7 separate regions of the Homo sapiens genome follow, and all the other regions are reported to be linked to region 1. Evidence: microRNA targets listed by miRTarBase, many of them from high-throughput screens and not tested one by one. Region 1 holds a microRNA gene; each other region holds the end of a gene's coding sequence.
The links. The annotated mature microRNA hsa-miR-6888-3p reads AUCUGUCUCGAUUGUUUCCAG and lies in region 1 at 1,214-1,234, shown strand. An mRNA with a match to its seed (bases 2 to 7 or 8) in the 3' UTR can be bound and repressed. Matches are read on the target gene's strand: a 7mer-m8 pairs with bases 2 to 8, a 7mer-A1 pairs with bases 2 to 7 and ends in A, and an 8mer does both.

Region 1 (3,083 bases):
GAGTTTACATCTTTGTCACGGGCATAAATCAGTGACTAAGGCAATGGGTGGTGAATTGAGGGTGGGTCTGCGGTGTGGTGGAATGGGCTCTTCTGCTGTGAGCCTTTGTATTCCTTCCCCTAGGAACGGGCACGCGCTCTTGGCATTCATGTTCTCGCGTCAGGAGGGCAAGTTGAACCGCCAGCAGACCATGGAGCTTGGCCACCACATCCTGAAGGCGCACATTTTCAAGGTGAGATGCACACCAACTTGGGGAAGGGTTTCTTTGTTGTCATTTTGAGGTTTTGCTTTGGAGATTTTAGACAGCTCTGTCAGCCATCCAAGAAACGCTCCATGCACCTCAGCCCAAATGCAACCTCCTCCTGCCTCCCCTCTCCAAAAGTAACCGCTGTTCTGACTCAGCCTGGGCATTTCCTTGCATTTTGCTATAGTTGATTGCTCAAGTGTATATCAGAGTGCTGTGCTTAAGTTTTACTTCTTTCCACCTTTAAATCTCTGATAAGTTTCTTTTTATCTAAAGGTTCCACTTTGTTCATTACTTTTTGTTTCCTTATTATTGATTTGTTCGAGAACCTGAGTTTCTTGACCTGTGTGATTTTGTACCACCTGGACTTTCTGACTGTGTTTGCCCAGGCTGGAGAGCAGTGGTGGGATCATAGCTTACTGGACTCAAGCCATCCTCCCGCCTCAGCCTCCCAAGTAACTGGGACTATAGGCACGCTCCACCTTGCAGGGCTCAGATGGTGATATTCTAATTCTGTCATTTATTCTTCCTCTAATTTACTTCCAACATGGTAAAACCTTGTCTCTACTAAAAATACAAAAATTAGCTGGGAGTGGTGGCATGTATCTGTAATCCCAGGTACTTGAGAGGCTGAGGGATGAGAATCACTTGAGCCTGGGAGGTGGAGGTTGAAGTGAGTTGAGATTGCACCACTGCACTTCCAGCCTGGGCGACACAGCAAGACTCTGACTCAAAGAGAAACTCTCATCTGCCATCTCTCTCCCAAGGCACAAAGTTAACCTAGTGAAGGCAGGCTGGTTCCTTGACCCTTGGTTTCAGGTAGTGAAAGCTCGCATGTCCAGGCATTCTTTGTGTGTGACCCCGTGCCTTCTGCAGGTATCTGCACCCTCTGCGGCAGACCCACTTTCAGAGTGACCCTGCAGGTGGGAAGGAGATGCTCAGGCAGATCTGTCTCTGATTGTTTCCAAGATCTGTCTCGATTGTTTCCAGGGCCTCAGTAAGAAGACGGGAATTTCTTCAAGCCATCTCCAAGCCCTGTGGATCGGCTACAGCACCGAGGGGCTGTCCGCCGCCCTGGCCTCTCTCAGGAATCTCTATACTCCCAACGTGAAGGTGAGCAACCTTCTGCACAGAGAGCCGGAGACCCAGCCCTGGCCGGCTGCTGGCCGTTCCTCCAACAGCCCTGTTTCCCTCTGCCCTGGGTGGTGGTGAGAGGACGCAGAGGAGCTTCTAAAGATGTGCTTCCCTGATCACACGGGCTTGGGTGCTGTATTACTCGTTCTTCCAGAAGTTTAGCTTTTCTTTGGCAGGAAGATGTGGGTGGTCAGGGCTGCTCTGAGCACATGTGGTGACTGTTTCACAGCAGATGTGATAAGGAAGCAATTTACAAAAGAAATCAAAGATCAGAGAGATTTCTAGGGAAAACGGATTTTTTAAGTGTCCTGCGTTACTAATCTGGACCATCTCTTCAGAGTTCATGGGAAATTAAGCATGGATGGGTGATGCATAGAGATAAGTACACAGAAAAACAAACATCGAGGTTTCATGTATCCATATTTCTGCCTATGGAAAGGGTATCAGCATGGCCTTCTGTGGAGCCAAGAGCTTCTTCACTTCTTGGTCAGTGGCTTTCATGTCATGATGTTCCACTCAGCTTTTTAAGGTAGATTTTTCTTCCTGATTTCATGTAGCCTGGGAATCTGAAGCACACAGAGGCCAAGCAGCCTGTTAAGGCCACAGAGACAGTGTCCAGGCCTTTCAGCTTCAGGCCCTGATGTACCCGGCTGCCTGTGGAAGCCCTGGGTCAGTTTAGGGAGCCAGGTCTTCCCCCCGAATCACTCACATTGTTTCATCTTTCATTTCAGCTAAGAGTGTATCTCTCGGCTTCTCCATAACTAATAAAATTCTATAATCATAAGAAAGATGAGAATAAAAATGGCAATATGTTTTCATATGTTAATGAATTTCTGGGCATAGAATTTATTTTAATATGGAAATAAGTAAATGGGAAACATCTGTTGAGTACAAGTTTTTAAGACAGTAAATTTAAAGGTACTGCATAATAGTGTAATGAGCATGGCCCTCCTGAGATTATAAACTTTGCTCTTTAACGTATGTGCGATTTTAAGAGTTAATCATTTTTACTTTGTTTTGTAAAACTCCAGTGTCACCTACATCTACACCATCTCCGAAATTATTTCTATAATGTGGTTATAGAATCTTAAGTCTTTTCATTATCCTTCTGTTTCTTTTATCTTTCAAGGGGGGAAAACGGTTTTCACAGGATCTTGAACAAATTACAGTAATTTTAAATTATGCATGCAATTAAGGAACTTTTTTTAGAGTGTATTAAATGTTGTCATACAGGAATGAATGTCATTTTGAACAATAATTGCAGTTTGCCACTTTGGTAAATTAAAGTGACTTGCTCTGGGATGATTACTTGGTAGATGGATTTTAGTTGCAGTGGCATGCCAGCAGTCTCTAACCATGTTGTCTCCTGTGGCCAGGCCAGGATGGGGCCAGCCTGGGCCCCGCTGGCCCACTGGAGTCCCATCCAGCCAGTGGTTTTGTTGTACCATCTCATAGGACTGGTGGCCAGCCGCAAGCTGTGGCCTCAGGAGGATTTAGGTTGCAGTTCTTTTCTCAGCTGACAACAGAAAGGAGAGGAGAACAGGAGCTAGGTGTGGCCTTTGGCCCAACTTCCCTTGGCCGGGAGATCCAGTCATATCCTACATCATAGTCAGGAAGGACACATTTTAAAACAATTGTGCTTGTGTGAGCTTCCAGTGTACTTAGTGGGAATGCTGATGCTGCCCTATGGCCACCCTGGCCAAGC
Region 2 (3,083 bases), not on the chromosome of region 1:
TCTGTCTCTCTCTCTCTCACATACACACACACTCACTCACAAGCAGTACAGTCACTAAGTTGGCTAGGTAATATCCAAAGCATTCTGATTGTCCTACTTTTTGTAAATTGAACTTATTTAAGATATTTTAGAAGAGATGAGTCACGTCTTCCTTTGACCCTTCACCCATAACACACATACCATTCTCACAGGAGGCCACATGGTGCAGTAGAGTCAGACTTTGATTCAAAGCCCAACTCTGTCACGTGACAGTAGGCTTGAGTTTCCTCATCTGTAAAAAGGGAAGATTTCCTACTTCATAAAGTGGTTGGAGAAATTAAAGAAATAGTATATGAAGCCTTGCACATAAAAAGCATTTGATATATATTAATGCCCTTTTGCACAAGAGGTCAAGAATTGCTTGGGTTCTACCTAGAAATCAAGAGCCTTATTTCTGAGCTGGGTTACTTGGCACCTGTGTTATTTCTCTCTCAAAACTACATAATGGTAGGAGGAGTAAAAGAAAAAGTCCCCGCCTCCCAGAGAAATTGAAGGATCCAGAAAGAAGTGCTTATAGCAGGGAATGTCTCCCCTCACCTCCTGTATGAACATCTCTCTCCTTCCTCCAGTATAGGAGGGTCTGCAAAGCTAAAGGAAGAGTTCCTTTGTTACAAGATAGAAAAGTGGTGCCACTTTAAAGATGATTTCTCAGTGTTCTCCTTAGATACCAAATACAAAGGACGAGGGATCAAGCTCAGCGAAAGTATCAGGCATTTAAGGTATCAGGCAGCAATGCGGGGAAAGGTGAATTTTCTTCAATCAGCATAGGATGGTTAGGGAAGAGCATTTATCACTTTGGTTCTTATCCTTCAAGCCAGGGGAAAAGCAACAGTGAGGACATCAGAGACAAAAGCATTTATAGAACTAACAAACACAAACGTTTGACAAGTGAGAAAGCTTTATTAAAGCACACATACATGTCAGGGGGGTGGGAAACAAAAGAGCAAGTTACAGCCCGGGATCCCAAGTTATGCCTTCCATTACAATTGCAATCCACACCAAATCAATCTTTGAAAACATTCCTCCATTCGGTTCATACATACAGTAGAAACCACTGTGGCTGCCCTTAATCCAGTGTGCTTATAGGAAATCAGTTAGCAGCTGACTCTGTTGAAAGGGATTTCCTCTCTGCTATACACTCCTTCCACACACAACTTTGGGTAGAAACGCTTATGAGAATAGAAAGGTCAGTTTGATCAATGAGTACCAGAAGATGAAACTTAGCTCACTAGACCCTTCTTTGAAAAGCCTCAACACACTACACCCATGTAATATGTAGGTCAAATTTAGGAAACAATAGCAAAAACAGGAACTGAAAGCTCATCAAGCAGGAAGTCAGAATAACAGGGAGACTCTGTCTACATTCCCTTAGAGCCCTTAACAGTCCCCAGCCTGGAGAAACACTGGGCCAATTGAGATAACACTTGGCTCTTCTGGTTGACACAGTGGGATGTAGACCATGCTCTGTTTGATAACACACCCCAGACGCAAACACTAAGACAGATGTGGTACATGAGGATGAATATATCTCATCTTTCATTCGAGAAATGAGGAGCTCTCTCTCCAATGACTGCAGTATCAGTTTAAAATGCAGAAAATTCAGCATGGGCTGTGAGACACTTTACCCTCAGTCACTCTGGTCCTCTGAGATCAGCTAGAAGCTCTCACTGGGCATCCTCGTGATTTAGTCAAAATACATTATCTAATTAAAGTGCTTTTCAAAAGCAGCTCCATTATAAGAGTCCCCCAAAGGTCTAGTAAAGATATCTAGAACTGGAAAAAGCTTGGGAATTCTGTTAGCATTTCAAAGAAAAGCATTAGACCAAAGCAAGGTGGAAACTGCTTAAAAACTAGAAAAGTTAAATTTAAAAGCCAAGTTCCAGAAGTTTATCCAGGTAGAAAATAAGTTAAAAGCATAAATTGGAGAGGAGAAAGAGGAAGGAACTACTCACCTCTCCCCAACATTCCTGTCTTTACTAACCAACCCTGCTTCCCAGAGCCTTAAAACCCAGACTGGTCCTAATGCGAAAGGTAGCCAGGGCTTCCTAGGGAAGTAGGAACAATGATAGCAAGACAGAAGATAAAAAGTTGTTTTAAAAGCTGTTTTTAAGTTAAGTGAACCTTATAAAGACATAAGAAAAAATGGACTCTGAAAATAAACTAGATTATACACAGAAACATTTTAAAGAAATGCTTATTCTTGAGACTGCTTTAAAAAGAAGAACAAGTCTGCATCACTCTAGCCAGCATAATGAGATTTGCAGAAAATACATGTTTGTACACATACACACACACACACACACACACACATACACACATACACACATACACATTAAATTATAAATCTTTGCTCTTGATTTCTTCACTTCCTCTGACCTGCCCTCGCCAGGGCTGGACCTGCAGAAGAGGACAGGGACTCATAAACCCAGCTTCTGCTTGGCCATTGAGGAACGGAGCTGCAGAGTCCCTTCTGCCCAAGACCCTGGGTACTGTCGCATCTTCTGCCACAGGCTCACTTCTTCCCCAGTCGAGTCCATCCAGTCCACCACTTCCCCATTACTGATCCCTGAGGAGAAACACCAGAAGAGGCTAAAGAGGGGCCCCACTCTCAGCCCACCAGGGAAGATGGGTTGTACAGCAAGATTAGCCACCCCATAACAGTTTCCTACGAAGATGGGCTAATGGCCACAGCAGTCTGGGAAGTGCTCCCTCACCTGTATTCCTGAGACTCTGTCAAGAGACTCTGGGTTGATGAAATCAGACTCCAAATGGCACACAGTCACTAGAGACTTCTTATTCTGAGGCTGTTACAGAGTTCTAGTGCCTGACAACTCATGCCAGAGCTATTGCCAACTGTACTTAAACATTTTTCTTTTATTATTATTATTAATTTGAGACGGAGCCTCGCTCTGTCGCCAGGCTGGAGTGCAGTGGCACAATCTTGGCTCACTGCAACTTCTGCTTCCTGGGTTCAAGCGATTCTCCCGCCTCAGCCTCCAGAGTACCTGGGACTACAGGCCTGCGCCACCACGCCCAGCTAATTT
Region 3 (3,083 bases), not on the chromosome of region 1:
TCCAGGCCGAGGGAGTGACCACTTCACCTCCCCACCGACAGGTAGAACGCCGTGTGGTGAACCAGCTGGCAGCAGCCTATGAGCAGGACCTGCTGCCAGGGGGCTGTACTTTGCGCATCACGGTGGAGGACTCAGACAAGCAGCTACTCAAAAGCCCAGAACTGCCCTCACCCCAGGCTGAGAAGCGCCTCCCCAAGCTGCGTCTGGAGATCATCGACAAGGACAGCAAGACTCGCAGACTGGACATCCGGGCACCACTGCACCCTGAGAAGGTGTGCAACACCATCTAGCAGCCACCTGCCTGCTCCTATGTGCCCTCACCATCCAATAAAGGCCCCTTGGCTGTGGCATGGCAACTGACTTACCTTCCCCTCATGCCGCTCCCATCTCTACCCAGTCTCAGGCCTGCTTACCTCCTCACAGCCCATGAAGACCCCTTCTCAGCCCCAAAACCTGAAGGAGGAATTTCGCCCTACTCTGGCCCCTTTGTTGTGGGCCCATAACCTGCTAACAAGCCTTCAGGAGAGGAGCTGCCTTTCCACCCCCTTCAAGGCAAGGAGGGATGGAGGTCCCTTATTTCCTTCAGAATGATCCCCATCCCCCATAGTCGCCAGACTTTCTCATGTTCCCAGGAAGCTCAGAAGTATGGCAGCTAAGAACACAGCTGGCTGGAAGAAGACAGGGACCAGACTGAACTGCCACCCTCTGCTAGTCCTCATGCAACTCAGTCCCCAGAATGGCTCCACTGGGAGTGGAGGAAGAGCTCAGAGGCCCAGGTGCAGATAGTTCTGCAATTTAGTCTGTAGCCTCCTCGTTCCCTACCCTAAAATTCTAAGGGGAAGGGACCCATAGAGGCTTGCCTGTTTCCGCTACTATATTATGCCCAGTGTTCCTCCTCACCCCACGTCCTGGGGTCAGGCCAGACCATGTTTCGTCAGCCTTGGGGACTAGGCCAGTGTTGGGCACCTCCAGGAGGAGGCCTGACTGGTTCATTACCCTCCCCTACTCAGACTGAGCAGCAGTCCCAGATAACCAAGCAAGCTCAGCTCTGTGGGGGCCTCCTTCAAAAGACCAACATCGCAGACATTAGGAAGCTGTAGGAAGAGAGATCATGGGTTTGACCTCTGCCCACATGGCCATGGAGTCAGCCTCAGCCCTGTCTGTACTGCTCGTCCAGCTAAACGAGCCTGGAATAAACATGCAGTTTATTCAGTCTGCATGTTAGTCACAAAGCAGAGGGTCTGGACACCGTCCCCCAAGGGCATTTCACAGACCAGCCAATGTTTCAAGCCCACCTTAGCCAGGCACAGTAAGGCCTGGTGCATCCTTGGGCACCATCTACAGTAGCCACTGCTGATAAGCAGTCCACCCACCTTCCCCCACAGGCCCTTCATGGAACCCTCGCGTAGTGTTAGCTAGTCTTTCAGGAAGCAGAGAATGGGGCCAGGAATCAAAGTCCCTTGGGTAATGGAAGCATGTCCTAACAGTATGGTGGGTATGAGGCAGTCAGAATCCAGGGTGTGAGCTCCAGCAGATGCTTGGATCACTGTCTACCCCTCAGGGGCTGCTGCTCCCTACCTCACTGACTGCCTTTTTTTTTTTTTTTTTTTTTTTGAGACAGAGTCTCACTCTGTCCCCCAAGCTGGAGTGCAGTGGCGCGATCTCGGCTCACTGCAAGCCCTGCCTCCCAGGTTCACGCCATTCTCCTGCCTCAGCCTCCCGAGTAGCTGGGACTACAGGTGCCCACCACCACGCCCGGCTACCTTTTTGTATTTTTAGTAGAGACAGGGTTTCACCATGTTAGCCAGGATGGTCTCAATCTCCTGACCTTGTGATCTGCCTGCCTCGGCCTCCCAAAGTGCTGGGATTACAGGCATGAGCCACTGGACCCGGCCTGCTTTTCATTGTTTTTTACTTTTTGTTTTGAAATAATTTTAGACTTAGAGAAAGTTGCAGAAATAGTAGAAAATTCCCATGTATCTTTCATCTAGCATCTCCCAATGATTACATCCTACAAAGCCATACTGTAGTTTATCAAAACCAGGAAATTGCCGGGTGTGGTGGCTCATGCCTGTAATTCCAGCACTTTGGGAGGCTGAGGCAGGCAGATTACCTGAGGTCAGGAGTTCGAGACCAGCCTGGCCAACATGGTGAAACCCTGTCTGTACTAAAAATACAAAAATTAGCCAGGCCCGCTGGTGCCCACCTGTAATCCCAGCTACTTGGGAGGCTGAGGCAGGAGAATCACTTGAGCCCAGGAGGCGGAGGTTGCAGTGAGCTGAAATCACGCCACTGCACTCCAGCCTGGGCGACAGAGTGAGACTCCGTCTCAAAAAAAGAAAACCAGGAAGTTAACATTGATAAACTACTACTAACTAATCTACGGACATTCAAATTTTGCCAGTTTTCCCGATGATGTCCTTTGTCTGGTCCAGGGTCCCATATTGCATTTTGTTGTGGTGTTTCCTTCATCTCTGTCAGCCTGTGACAGTTTCTTGGTCTTTATCTTTCATGACCTTGACACTTTGGAAGAGTCCAGGCCAGTTATTTTATAGAATATTCCCCAGTTTTAGTTTGTTTAATGTTTTTACATGATATGATTGAGGATCTGCATTTTTGCCAAGACAACCACAGAAGTGATACTGTGCTATTCTTAGTGCCTCCTAGCGGAGGGTGGTGGTAACTTTTTGTTTTGGTTTTTTTTTTTTTTTTGAGACGGAGTCCCGCTCTGTCACCCAGGATGGAGTGCAGTGGCGCAATCTCGGCTCACTGCAACCTCTGCCTCCTGGGTTCAAAGTGATTCTCCTGCCTCAGCCTCCTGAGTAGCTGGGATTGCAGGTGCCCACCACCACACCCAGCTAATTTTTGTATTTTTAGTAGAGACAGGTTTTCGCCATGTTGGCCAGGCTGGTCTTGAACTCCTGACCTCAGGTGATCCACCCACCTCGGCCTCCCAAAGTGCTGAGATTACAGGCATGAGCCACCACACCTAGACTAGGTGGTGGTAACTTTGATCACATGGCTAAGGTGGTGTGTGCCAGGTTTCTCCACTGTAAAATTAGGAATTTTCCCTTTGAAATTAA
Region 4 (3,083 bases), not on the chromosome of region 1:
AACTTATTTTCTAAAGGGAAATTAATCTTAACTGTTTATTGATTTGGAGATTGTATCTCATTGGTAAAGAACAGTTACTTCCTTCACAGTCTAAAGACAAATTGTGTATTATTCTGTGTTAAATAGCATGGCACTGTTGATCAGGAGTTTACTTCTGTCTCATTACAATGTGAACTTGTTGCCCATAAAATAATTCTCTTAAGATTGATACATCCTGACTATGTACTAACATGTCATGTCAGTTTATTATTTTAAATAGAATGTGCTAATAACATATCATTTTAAGGTTTATGTGAACTATTTCTCTGAAAGAATAAAAATTTGTCACTGTATAATTGAACATATATTGCACTTTGTATTCACAGGTTTGGGGGAGGCAGATCAGACATGTAAACTATGTACTTCTTGCTAATTGAAATTATTTCTACATTAAACAGACTTGTAGAATTTACTTATACATGCTTGACTTTTTAATTATCTTTTTTCTCCTTTTCTTAAAGATGATACTTGTTGATGCCACTGTTATCATCCTCCTAGCAGAAGATAGTCCTACTGAGAAAATGAGCACTTTGATCATTCAGTCTTTGAACTTTAACCTTTGACTGGAAGTGACCTATAGGCAATGAAGACTACTTCCTTTTACTGCATTTTTACTCGTGTGCATTCTGGGCGCATGTTGATCGCTGGTTCAGTCCAGGCAACTGACATGCTTTTATTAGTCATACAGTATTAATGCAGGTGTCAGGAAATGTCAAATATAATTCCATTTTTTATTTTTATTTTTTTAAGCTTTTGGAAAAGCTCCAGGTCCTCATGTATTGTGCAATAACAATGACTTCCTTGGCGGTTTTGGTACGTTCATTGCCGGCAATGGGCGTTGTAACAGGAAAAGTTTTCATTAACTCCTGCCATTCAATGATTAATGCATGATAGGGCCTATGAAATGAACTTACTGGTTATAGTGGGAATATAAATAAAGTGAGGGATCCAACATTACTTTAAAAGTCACCCCAACTGTTTATATTTGGATTCTATGCACTGTGATCCTAAGGTTAACAGCATGAATTAACATGCGTCTTTAAAGGACTGTAATGAAAGATCATTGCATATTTATTGAATTGTTTATATCTACTGTCAAGTTGTTTTGACATGGAAGATTTTCAAGTAACATTGGCAGAGAGGTACAGTATGTTATCCCTATGGTGAAAATAAATTAATTTGTTGTATATAGTTCCTCAATCTCTGAAGTAAAGGTATGAGTAATATAGGGTATGAATGGTTTAATCAAGGCTTTATTTTGGAAGTAAGAAAAATGGCAGTGATGATTAAATTGCTGCAGTCCATAATTTGGGCTTGTTATTTGTACATTAAAGATTTTTTCCAAGTAAGTTACACTCTGTTAACTTCCTGCTAGCCATCAGCATGAGCCCTACTGCCTAAACACTATTTCATTTATTTATGTTTGGAAACCCCGTAAACATTTTTGTTTGCAATCTTGTTTCTTTTGTTATAAGTCAAGTTTGAATGTTACAATACTTTTATTGAAACTTTTGTTAAGTTTTTTCTTGTAAATTTTCTTTACTTGTGAGTATCATCTTGTCCTTTAATCCTGTACCCTAAAATAAGAAATACATTTTTGACAGAGGCTTAATGTTTTAACAAAAGAGTGTGGACATTTTTATTTTAAAATTTAGGCAAAAGTCACTATCAAATGGTTGCTTATTTGTCTCACACAGCCATATAGTTTTTCCTGGAGGGTTTTGTTTTGTTGTTGTTGAAAAGACTTTGCTTACAGCTAGATGAAACTTTCTATAGAAAAAAAAAATTGTTGAAAGGTCCAGTTCTCAGTACCATGTGAGTTAATGATACTACAACTAAGTTCTTTTTAAAAAGTGATTAATGTATTTTATAAATTACCTTTTCACATATGCAAAATCTGTTTCTACTACAATGTTATTTTTACTAATGCCTTATTGTTGCACTCTTTTTGAAATATCCTGCAGTGAATATATGAATCAATTTGGGCTTAAAACTGAAAGCCAGTTGGCTGAAAGGTTTGAAATACGTACCCCAGTAAAACCATTCAATCAATAATTGGTAAATAATATTTTAAAATTGTTTTTAATCTGTATAGATGACATTTTGTAGCTTTGTACATGTTGTTAATTAAGGGCATATAATTTTACACTCAAAGTATAATTGCTGAACTCAGGGGTGGGTAGACTTCAAAAATATGTCTGCTATAGAAATAACTTGAAAAAAAAAATTAAAACCGTGGCCAGCCACCAAATTGTGGACACTGTTTATATACTGCTAGTTAACAATTACCACTTTTAAAAAATTATAACCGTTTTTGTTCTATCTTGACTAGATAAATTCTCACAATGATCTCTGTCAGTTTTATTAGTTGGCCTGTTTAACCAAGACAGAAAGTCTTTGAATTACTCATAGTTTTAAACTGCTTTTAATATGAAAATTGCAGCTGTAAATTATGTATTTTCATATTTTGCGTAACTGCTCTACACTACTGTTTGACTTGATCTTCTTCTGGGGGTTAGGGAGAAATCTGTCTCCATATTGCTGGTTCTCTTACCAAAATGCTTTTATAAAGAAATGACCGGTGACATTTATTCACCAAAGGAATTAATATACTGAGTCAAAGATTAACAATGCTATACTATAGAGTAATAGGTCATATATAGCCTCAATTGAGTTTTTTATGACAATATTTTAACATACCTCTCTCTCTACATATAAATACCATAAAGTAAACTAAAATGACACAGAGGAAAGTAGAGGAAAATGAAATAATTTCGGTACATCTTATGGTTTAAAGAGTAGAAAATAAGATGAAATATCCTAAAATATAGGAGCACAGACATTTAAAATTCATAATCAGGCTAACAACACTCTCTTGAATTTAGGAATCATTGAAAACTCCTTGCACTTAGATTTAATTTATATGTTAGTTACATTATTAAAAGTCATAAGGCATTTATCTGAGTCATTGCTCTACAGAGAGCAATTAATGGCTTGTAATAATAAAAAGAATATTTCTCTGTAATGCATTGTTGAAAGACAAC
Region 5 (3,083 bases), not on the chromosome of region 1:
CCTGATTGGTTATTAGTTTAAAACTTTCTTAATTAGGTAAGGGGAATAGAACAAAGAAAGAAAAGGAAGTTGCCCAGGGATACTTAAGGAAGCATCTCCAAATAAGGAGTGGCATGCACTATGGGCTGGGGCTTGTCTACTTCTGTCCAGGCATGCCGGAGCAAGCTAGGACAGCTGATTTGGAATATATATATATAATCCATTATATATATATATAAAATCCATTATATATATATATATATAAATAATCCACTATATATATATAATCCACTATATATATATATATAATCCACTATATATATATAGCAATCTTATAGTAAGAAATTGTGACTTTTTATAATCTTTGAAAAAGAACTCCCATTTCTCACATGGAGGAAGAAATTTCTAAGCAGTAAAGCTTTCAAGAGGTGACTTGGGTTGTTTTATGAAAGAAACAGAGCATAAAAGTTTGGAAAATTTGCAGCCTGTCAACGTGATAGAAAGAAAAACCTATCTTCTGAGGAGAAATTGAAGCTGGCTGCAGAAACTTGCATAAGTAATGAGGAGATGAATGTTAATCTCCAAGACAATGGGGAAAATGTCTCCAGTCTGTGTCAAGAGTTTTCACCAGAGCCCCTCCCATCACAGGCCTGGAGGCCTAGGAGAAAATGGTTTCCTGGGCCAGGCCCAGGTTCTGTTAGGCATACAGATACATAACAAGTTAGTCATGTGTGGGAATTAATAAATGAAGAAATTGTACTTGTAAATGCATCAAATGTTCACAAATCCAAGGTCAGTTTTCTTATTTTAAAAATAGAAGCAATGCCAGCTCCACAGGAATGGTTTTGAATATCAAATACTTACATGAAAGGACTTTGGAAGCTATGAAATACAACACAAATGTACAATAATAATAATAAATAACGTCACTGTAGAGAACTAGCCCTTTTCTCTACCTAAGGCTTTTTCTCAGGGGACTGGTGGAACAGAGGCTGACTTCATAGATAGAAAAATATCTAATTTCTACAAACAGGAGCTCTTTGAAAAAAAAAACAAAGCAAAGGAAACAAACCAAACAGAAACATTCAAATCCAAGAGGATAGCTCAGGGCTTTTTAATATAATTCTCATCTTGCCCTACTTCGAACAGGTTTTTAACAGAATATTGATACAACTAAAGAACAACAGAGTAAATACACATAGCATTTATACCATTTGAGGTATTTGGCTATGCTAGGTTTTTTTTTTTTTCTTTCCCTCAGTGGAACCACACATTGAGAAATATAGCTTTAGAACACAATATTCTATCAAAACCAGAAAACAGAGATTGTTTTATTTGAAAACATCAGATATGCAGTGATTCTTTCAATGTCATTTCTTTCACTTAAACCTTCAGGTTTATTAAGCCTCTGATTCTCAATTAGAATAAGTTCCCTAAGTCCCTGTCATAAATAGAATTATATCAACCTTTCACATCTCAGTCACATTGAGTTCTAATAAGTGTGCAACAATAAGACAGCTGAGTATGGAATGGCAATTGGAAAAATATTATACATTGCTTTTTGCCTATTTTAAAATTGAGTAATAAAAGGTATTTATTATTTTGCCATATAAGGTGCTGAGTTCAGGAATATTTTCATGGGAATCAAGTTTTTCCCTCAGGTGTTTGCTTAGTGTACTTCACAACTACTATTGATTCCTTTACAAAGTTGATCCATGAATATTCATTGATGGAAGAGGTCTTAGTGGTCATCTAGTGCTATCCATTTATTTTATAGATAAAGAAATCTCCTATGCTAGGTATTTTTATTTAGTTCATTTATTAGTATTACTAGTGGTAAGCAGTTATCTTATTAATCTGTTAACTTTTACTATACCTATTGAATAACAAGTTAATAGTTTTTAAAAAATTTATTTATTTTATCATATAAATTTGGAAGCACCCAGATTCCTCTACCACAACTAATTAAAATTATGGCATTTATTAGCCCTTGGTGGCAGAAAATTACAGCAAGTCTTTAATGAAATATTGAACATTAATTATAAATAATAAGTTTGCATCCTAGCAGGATGTACAGGTACCACTTAAACTATTCCAAAAACCACAAAGACAAATAATAATATTAGATACCTTAATATCACATGAAAATACCACTACCACCAATAAAAACTATGACAGTAACAGTAAAAACAAAAAAATACAAATTTTATTCAATGGTTGTTATGAACTTGGAATGATCTTAAGCACCTTACTATTTAAAACACAGAGATGGAAACATGTTTAGAAAATGAAAATTCCCTACTTTATTAGAATAACATGGTGAAATCTTAAGATTAATTAGACTGGTCAAATGTTTTTCAGTGTTTTTCCTGTCATGTCTTTATCTGTTCTTAGTGTCAAAGAGCCCACCTTACATGTTTTTTGTTTCTTTGTTTTACAAATTTAAATTGATTGAATAAGTATAGGAGAGAAGGGAATAAAAAACATTCCAATGGTGGTTTGCATATTTTCTTTCTTGTTAAAACTCAGTGTTTTACTTTTTTTTTTTTTCTGTCTTTTTTTGTATTACACTTTTGGTTTATATTGGTGATACATCTTTTTCCTCCTCTTTCTACTCTTATTTTTCCTCTTCCTCCATCTTTTCTTTTTGTGTTTCCTCCTCCTCCTCCTCTCTCTCTTCTTTTTCCTCCTCCATTTCCATTATTTCCATTTCCATTTCCTCTTTCTCTTTCTTCTCTTCCTCTTTTTCCTCCTCTTCATTCCCTGCTTCAGATTCCTCAGGGGTAAATATCATTTGTTGTTCCAACAAGATATTTGGAAACTGAGACTGTACTATCAAAACAGTTATGACACACAGGATAAAACATAATATTCTCAATAATAAAATGAATGTGCACAGTGGATCACACACAACTGGCCGGGGCATTTCCCATTTTGGATACCAAAATCGGTAATCTGTAAACAAAGAAGCAATTGAAAGCTGGATTTCATATAAAGCAGTTCAATTGTTCAAGAAATAAAGGACAACAATACATACATGTGGCTTGGTCACGATCTGCATTACCTAGAAAGAAAAAGAAAGTCCACAAAAATTACATAAAATT
Region 6 (3,083 bases), not on the chromosome of region 1:
GAAGGCTGGGCAGACTGGCTTTTGTTACCTGACATGCCGTAGGGTGAGCTTAGAGGAAGAAAGAAAACAATTTTTATTTGGCCAAAACAGAACAAATGCTGAAAAGGAAATCTTGTTTTTTTCCTAAAGCCAAATAGAAATGATTTGGGTATAATTTAAGAGTCCTTGTGTTGTACAGATATGGTGACTGATGTAGTTATTAATACTACCAACTTAGTCATCAAGCCTCAATTTTCCTTTACCTGAAGGATTAAGTGAAAGCTTTTGGAGTTCATGATGTTCAGTATGATCAGTTAACCTTAACCTCTGAGCATCCTGAAGCAAAATCTAAATAATGCAGCTATTACCACTGGTGGTCCAGGCTCTGGTGAAGCCCTCTGAGCCCAGGAGGAAGAGAAAGCATTGTCCAGAGGTAGGAACACAGTCTGGGAGCCCAGAGCTCTGGGAGGAGTGGGAAAATGCTGCTTCCTGCTGCTTGCTTCTAGGCACCTGCTTCCGCCATCTCACTTACCATGGCTAGAGATGGGGGTGAGACTGGGGAAGGACAAAAGCAGGGAACAGATAAGTGATGGAAATCAGAAGGGAATATAGAAAGAACTCTGGATGTGGAGAAATGCCGGTACCTGAGCATTTTGTATCAATGGGAGTACCCTCTGTAACTGCTCAGTAGGTTACAAATGAAGAGTCCACCAGTATTAGAAACAATTTAAACTTGCCAGTACCAACTGGGATGTGTGCCTTCAATTTGAAAATTGTATGTTTTATTTTTTAAATTTGTTAACAGCATTAATTTATAGAGTATTGATGTCATTTATGTTTCTGAGGTGTTTCAACACAATTTTGGATCAGCTGCCTGTTTGCAAAAACATAATATATTTCTGTTAAACAGTTCTTCACCTAACAGCATATTGCTCTTATAACTGGTAGAGCTGTTTCAAAGGAAGTTGGTTTCTGGTCCAAGTTTTGACCTAAACCATGTCCATCTTCTATTACCAGCACTTACAAGCACTGTGAAAACTGATCATGACAAATAAGTAAAATTTGCTACATTAAACATATTGCCTCAGCCATTACTAAGCGTCCACTTGTAAAGCTGGACACAGTTTTTACTTTATGCTTCATTTTGATTTTTTATCCGTAAGACATAAATTAGAAGGCATGAGGTGGCCCTTTAAGGATAATCTGCAAATATACACATTTTAATAGTCATCCATCTGAAATCGATCCACATTCCAGAGAAGATTCAGTATTGTGCTGTGTGAAATAAGCATTCCCAGAAAAAAAACATTTATGCTAATAATACAACATAACCTCTGCATTAAAGAAAAAGATGCTTTTAGGCCAGGCGCCGTGGCTCACACCTGTAATCCCTGCACTTTGAGAGGCTGAGGTGGGTGGATCATGAGGTCAGGAGATCAAGACCATCCTGGCTAACAGGGTGAAACCCCGTCTCTACTAAAAATATAAAAAGTTAGCTGGGTGTGGTGGTGGGTGCCTGTAGTCCCAGCTACTCAGGAGGCTGAGGCAGGAGAATGGCGTGAACCCGGAAGGCAGAGGTTGTAGTGAGCCGAGGTCACGCCACTGCACTCCAGCCTGGGTGACAGAGTGAAACTCTGTCTCAAAAAAAAAAAATTTAAAAAATTTAAAAAAGATGCTTTTAGAAGAGTAAAAAGTTGGAAGACAAAATGTGCATCTTTTATGTTCTGTCATTCTGTGGGGGTTTTTTCGTTTGTTTGTTTTAGACAGGGTCTGCTCTCACCCAGGATGGAGTGCAGTGGCACAATCACCGTTTACTGCACCCTTGACCTCCAGGGCTCAAGTGATCCTCCCATCTCAGCCTCCCTAGTAGCTGGGACCACAGGCTTACACCATCACACTCAGCTAATTTTTTAAATCTTTTGTAGAGATGGAGGTCTCGCTTTGTGACGTAGCCTGGTCTTGAGCGATCCTTTTGCCTTGGCCTTGCCAAAGTGCTGGGATTGGAGGCATGAGCCACTGCACCCACCCCTGTTTTTTATTTAAGTAAACCATTATAATAACTCATTTATAAAAAGGTTACTTCAAGAGGGCTTTCAACTTAAGAATTATTTTCATTTTGAACATGAAAAGTTAAATAGTAACTAAGAAACTGAGAACTCTGACAGTGACCTCTAATAGGTAACTTTAGGCAAAAGTAGACAAGTTTGTGGGTATTTTGTTGTTCATGTTAAAAGGCACCTGTACAAGAATCAAGATATGAATCTAGTTTGTAGAGGGAAGGTCTTATGCAAATACCAAATCATACAAGTGGTTACACATATAATAGATCATTTGGTCCAGTAAAAGTGGGTTCAGCTTGTTTATTCCCTACTTTTGTTATCTTAAAAACAATGATTTTTTGCATGTAATAGAAGGTTTTTCACTTAAGATGCTATTGAGTGAATCAGTGAGGGGTTCTTAGAGTTAGTATTCATTAATTAAACATAGAATATTAGCTAAACAGTTCTGGGTACACTGCAATGCATGGTCTATGGAAGACTAGATGTTTGGCTGAAGATGCTTTATTGTTGCATTATCAAAATGGTTATAGTTTTCAATTAAAACTGTAATTGATTTCTATGTATAAAACAGCTTTGAAGTTGTAAATGTAGTTTCCAATCGTTAGTTAATGCTACATTAGTTAGCAATATTTGAAAATTTTATTGGTATAAAATGTTTTAATTACTAAGGCTGTTTGTAGGCTGCATAGTAAGCTTCAGGATCATCACACGTTTTTTCCCTGTAATTGGTGGGATAGGAAGCCTTTAAGGTCTCTTGCTTCTCATGGGTGGGCTACAAGGAGCAGCAGCCATCGTGGCAGGCTTGTGATCTTTTTCCTGCTGACACCTGCTGCTTGACATGGAGAAGTTCTGCACAGAAAGCAGTGGCATCCTTCATGAGGTGGTACTTGGGGCAGACACTGAGAGCATTGTAATCGTCTTTTGTATCAATCTCTCTAAAGTAGACCACCACGTATTTGTGCAGATGAATCTGGCTTCTTAGATCACTGCAGAAAAGGTTAAAGGCAAGGGGGAAGAGGTCTTGAGAGTTCTCACTGGGACTGC
Region 7 (3,083 bases), not on the chromosome of region 1:
TTGCATAACCCGCCTTGGGAAAGTAAAGCAGGGGCATATTCTAGGGCTCTAAATCAAATTAACACCTACAAAATGTTGATGCCCAGTTATATGCTGTCAGGCAATTGCCCAAGACTCCAGATAGCAATGTCCATTCATGCCCCTGTAAGAGGTACCTGGATGGAATGACTTATTTTACAACTTCATTTTCAAAGTTGGTTCTCCACATACTTGTATTCCAAGTAATATAAAATTAAAAACATATATTAATCTACATTCTCATAACTTAATCATCCTTTGAGAGAAAATACATCACACTTGGTACTGTACAGTAAGATAGATTGTTCATAGAAAAAAATTCAAATACATTTCTTTTCTACTAAAATGTGGTGGGAAAAGGACAACCCATGCTTTGTGGAGACAGGTCTGCAGTCCACCTGTTCATTATATTCATATTTTCAGTCCAGGAGTCTCCCTAGTCACACAGAAATGCCACCAGTTGGCCTTAAAACACACTTGCTAGAGAGAGGGGAGGCAAACAGTCCTCCCAAATGATGCTGCAGCCTCAAACAGGCTTATCCATTCATATCTTCTCCACCACATTCTTATTAGGCATCAAACAGTCCCTTTAAATAAGAATGGTTTTAATAAGATATTAACAACTAAGTTTCCCATGGAATAAGAATTTCTAACTTAGGGTATCTCAGCACGTATTCCCAGTTACATATGCCCTACACAATTGCTTAAGTGGTAAGCAGTCTGAAAAACTCTCCTCCCTTTACCTCTTTGTGAATCTACAGCAGTCTTTTAAGATTGTTTTGCAAATGCTATATTCAAAAAGAGGTTTTTTTTTTTTCAAGTAAAGTGCATGGATTTCTCAGAAGTTGCTGTATTTTAAGAAGTGCCTCTTTAACCCCATAATGAGCAATCCTTATGTTGGTCAGAAGCAAAGCAGTTTTGTTTGCAATTGTAAATCTTGGCTCTCCTAGCCCAAATCTCACAGCCATCACCCAGGATCTCTGCCCCATATTTCCCTGGAAAATGTCCTAAGTCAAAACAACAACAACAACAACAACTTCATCTTTAGAAATAGGGTGCCTTCACAAATATGGGTAAGCCAACAGTTCATCGAATACTATAGGGAAAGAGAGAGAGAACGGGGATGAGACAGCAAAAACATTAAGACTTGTTCTCAGCATTGCTCTCCTCTCACTGGGCAGTGGCTGAAAACACCAGAAAAGTTGCATTAATAAAACTGCATATAGTCTAACACTGCACAGAGTGCTTTGATACAAGTATCCTCTTGCTACTTCATCTTTTCAATACATCTTTGCAAGGTTTGTTTTCAAAAAGACATTACAAGTTGGCAGGCTTCTGCTTATAAAAATCAATGAAATACTTTCCCTTCAACTCTATGAAACCTGCCATATACCTGAGATTTATTCTTCTCAAATAAATCAAACATAGGCAACGTAACACTCTGGAGTCAACACAGAACATGCCAGGGTGAGTTCAGGCAATGAAAGAACCACTTTTCTGCAAATACATGGTAGAATTGAAGACTGTTTGTAGCTGTCGATAATTTGTAAAAACATTTCCAATGTTCTTTGAACAAAAGATTTTGATTCAGCCAAGATTACAGAAAGGAATCATGACAAAGTCCTAAGTGTACCTTTGTGTGTATTTCATCTGCTCAGCTTTTGCAGGTGACTGTGGTGGTGGTTGCCTGGATATGGAATTCCTTTGCCCTCAAATCTTCACATGCATGAAGTGCAATAAAGAATAAAATGCTGTGTTTATGTCGCACCACTTCTAAGAGGTTTAAAGCGCCGTACGAATGTTACCACATGAATCCCCACAACACCCCTGTGAGGTAGGTAGGTGGAGAGTATTGTCATCCCCACTTTACAGGTGGGAGAAATGAGGCACCCAATAGTTAATAAGAGATTTGCTCAAAATCACACAGCTAGTCACTGGCAGGGCTTAGAATAAAATGTATACTGATTAGCACCTAGCACAGTGCTTTGCACATAGTAGGTGTTCGTTTAATATCTGTGGATTTTATTTGACTTATGTCTCAACATACAATATACACACATAAAGTACAAGCAGCCACCGTAAAACATTTTTCTGATGATATCTCTCATTACTTCAAATCCTGGTGGAGGAAGGAGGTTCAAGAATCCATCTCACAATTAAGACCTCAGGGTTGAAGAGGATCATCATAAAAACTATCAGCTGACAACCAGCTCTTACACCTGCTCTACCACACAATATTATTAATAGTTTTCTAATGAAAACAAAAATGGATTTCAGGAACCATGCTGACATTATTTTTTGCCTGTTTGTTTTCAATGGAGTCATCTGAATGGTTCTGTGTTTTGTTTGTACAAAAAAGAAATAAGGCTGCTATAGTCCAGTTAGCATGTGAAAACTCTGCCAAGCACGAAGATCTCCTCCCAGCTCGGATGGATTGCTACCTGGGAAAATGGACCGACCCAGGGAGTGGCAGGTCCCAAGGAAGAGGGTCAGTGAGGCTGGACGTCACTTGCACTGTTCGTGGTCTGTATAGTCATCCATGTCCACATCCGAATCAAAGAGTGAGTGTCCAGTAAAATCTGTGTCTGGGGTTCTGGAAAAACTGTTTTCTGCTCCCTCATCTTCAAAGGTCTCTGTCCTTGAGTAAAAGCTAAAATCCAGCAGCGGGGTGTGGGTTTTGCTGCCTTCGCTGCTCTCCTCAGACTCATAGATGGTATTGTCATCATCGTGGTGCCACTCTGGCCAAAATTTCCTCCTTATCCTCTCACAGTACATGGCAAGGTTGATCAGCTCACCTGCAGTGTGGTAAGGAAAGCAAGGATTAGTTCTCAAAGGCAGCAGTCTACCACTTCTATGGTCTGTGTTGCCCCAAAACTCCAATGTTGAAATCCTGACTCCCAATGTGATGGTCTAAGGAGGTGGGGCCTTTAAGAGGTGGTTCGTTCATGAGGCCCAAGCCCTCATTCGTGGTACTAGTACCTCATAACAGAGGCCTGAGAGAGCTGCCTTCCCCCTTTTACCATGTGAGGACACAGCAAGACAGCACTGTGTCCAGGAAGCAGGAA

Region 2: miRTarBase lists SYTL4 as a target of hsa-miR-6888-3p. Seed matches in the 3' UTR shown: 7mer-m8 at 1,393-1,399.
Region 3: miRTarBase lists CLPB as a target of hsa-miR-6888-3p. Seed matches in the 3' UTR shown: 7mer-m8 at 1,616-1,622.
Region 4: miRTarBase lists UBE2W as a target of hsa-miR-6888-3p. Seed matches in the 3' UTR shown: 8mer at 2,424-2,431.
Region 5: the mRNA of GLIPR1L2 is a reported target of hsa-miR-6888-3p. Seed matches in the 3' UTR shown: 8mer at 2,528-2,535.
Region 6: the mRNA of IL17RB is a reported target of hsa-miR-6888-3p. The part of its 3' UTR that is shown has no 7-base or 8-base seed match.
Region 7: miRTarBase lists FAXC as a target of hsa-miR-6888-3p. The part of its 3' UTR that is shown has no 7-base or 8-base seed match.

The regions. Positions count from the first base shown.
Region 1 is chr2:159,185,668-159,188,750 of GRCh38, forward strand. MIR6888 (microRNA 6888) reads left to right here and starts at 1,168; the gene lies at 1,168-1,234. TANC1 (tetratricopeptide repeat, ankyrin repeat and coiled-coil containing 1) reads left to right here. Exons shown (of 27, transcript NM_033394.3): 15 at 124-232; 16 at 1,235-1,357. RefSeq lists an enhancer at 1-104 and a cis regulatory region at 20.
Region 2 is chrX:100,673,572-100,676,654 of GRCh38, forward strand. It overlaps SYTL4 (synaptotagmin like 4), which reads right to left. Exons shown (of 20, transcript NM_001370165.1): 20 at 920-2,605. The coding sequence ends at 2,457. SRPX2 (sushi repeat containing protein X-linked 2) reads left to right here. Exons shown (of 11, transcript NM_014467.3): 11 at 1-2,217. Among named protein-coding and RNA genes, the nearest start is that of SRPX2, 31 kb to the left of the region's middle.
Region 3 is chr11:72,290,574-72,293,656 of GRCh38, reverse strand. It overlaps CLPB (ClpB family mitochondrial disaggregase), which reads left to right. Exons shown (of 16, transcript NM_001258392.3): 16 at 42-3,083. The coding sequence ends at 290. Among named protein-coding and RNA genes, the nearest start is that of PHOX2A, 48 kb to the right of the region's middle.
Region 4 is chr8:73,791,533-73,794,615 of GRCh38, reverse strand. It overlaps UBE2W (ubiquitin conjugating enzyme E2 W), which reads left to right. Exons shown (of 6, transcript NM_018299.6): 6 at 501-3,083. The coding sequence ends at 514. Among named protein-coding and RNA genes, the nearest start is that of STAU2, 46 kb to the right of the region's middle.
Region 5 is chr12:75,430,675-75,433,757 of GRCh38, reverse strand. It overlaps GLIPR1L2 (GLIPR1 like 2), which reads right to left. Exons shown (of 6, transcript NM_001270396.2): 5 at 3,017-3,043; 6 at 1,070-2,934. The coding sequence ends at 2,597. Among named protein-coding and RNA genes, the nearest start is that of GLIPR1L2, 41 kb to the right of the region's middle.
Region 6 is chr3:53,865,037-53,868,119 of GRCh38, reverse strand. IL17RB (interleukin 17 receptor B) reads right to left here. Exons shown (of 11, transcript NM_018725.4): 11 at 2,326-3,083. The coding sequence ends at 2,812. ACTR8 (actin related protein 8) reads left to right here. Exons shown (of 13, transcript NM_022899.5): 13 at 1-1,054. Among named protein-coding and RNA genes, the nearest start is that of ACTR8, 16 kb to the left of the region's middle.
Region 7 is chr6:99,278,641-99,281,723 of GRCh38, forward strand. FAXC (failed axon connections homolog, metaxin like GST domain containing) reads right to left here. Exons shown (of 6, transcript NM_032511.4): 6 at 1-2,813. The coding sequence ends at 2,524. Among named protein-coding and RNA genes, the nearest start is that of FAXC, 69 kb to the right of the region's middle.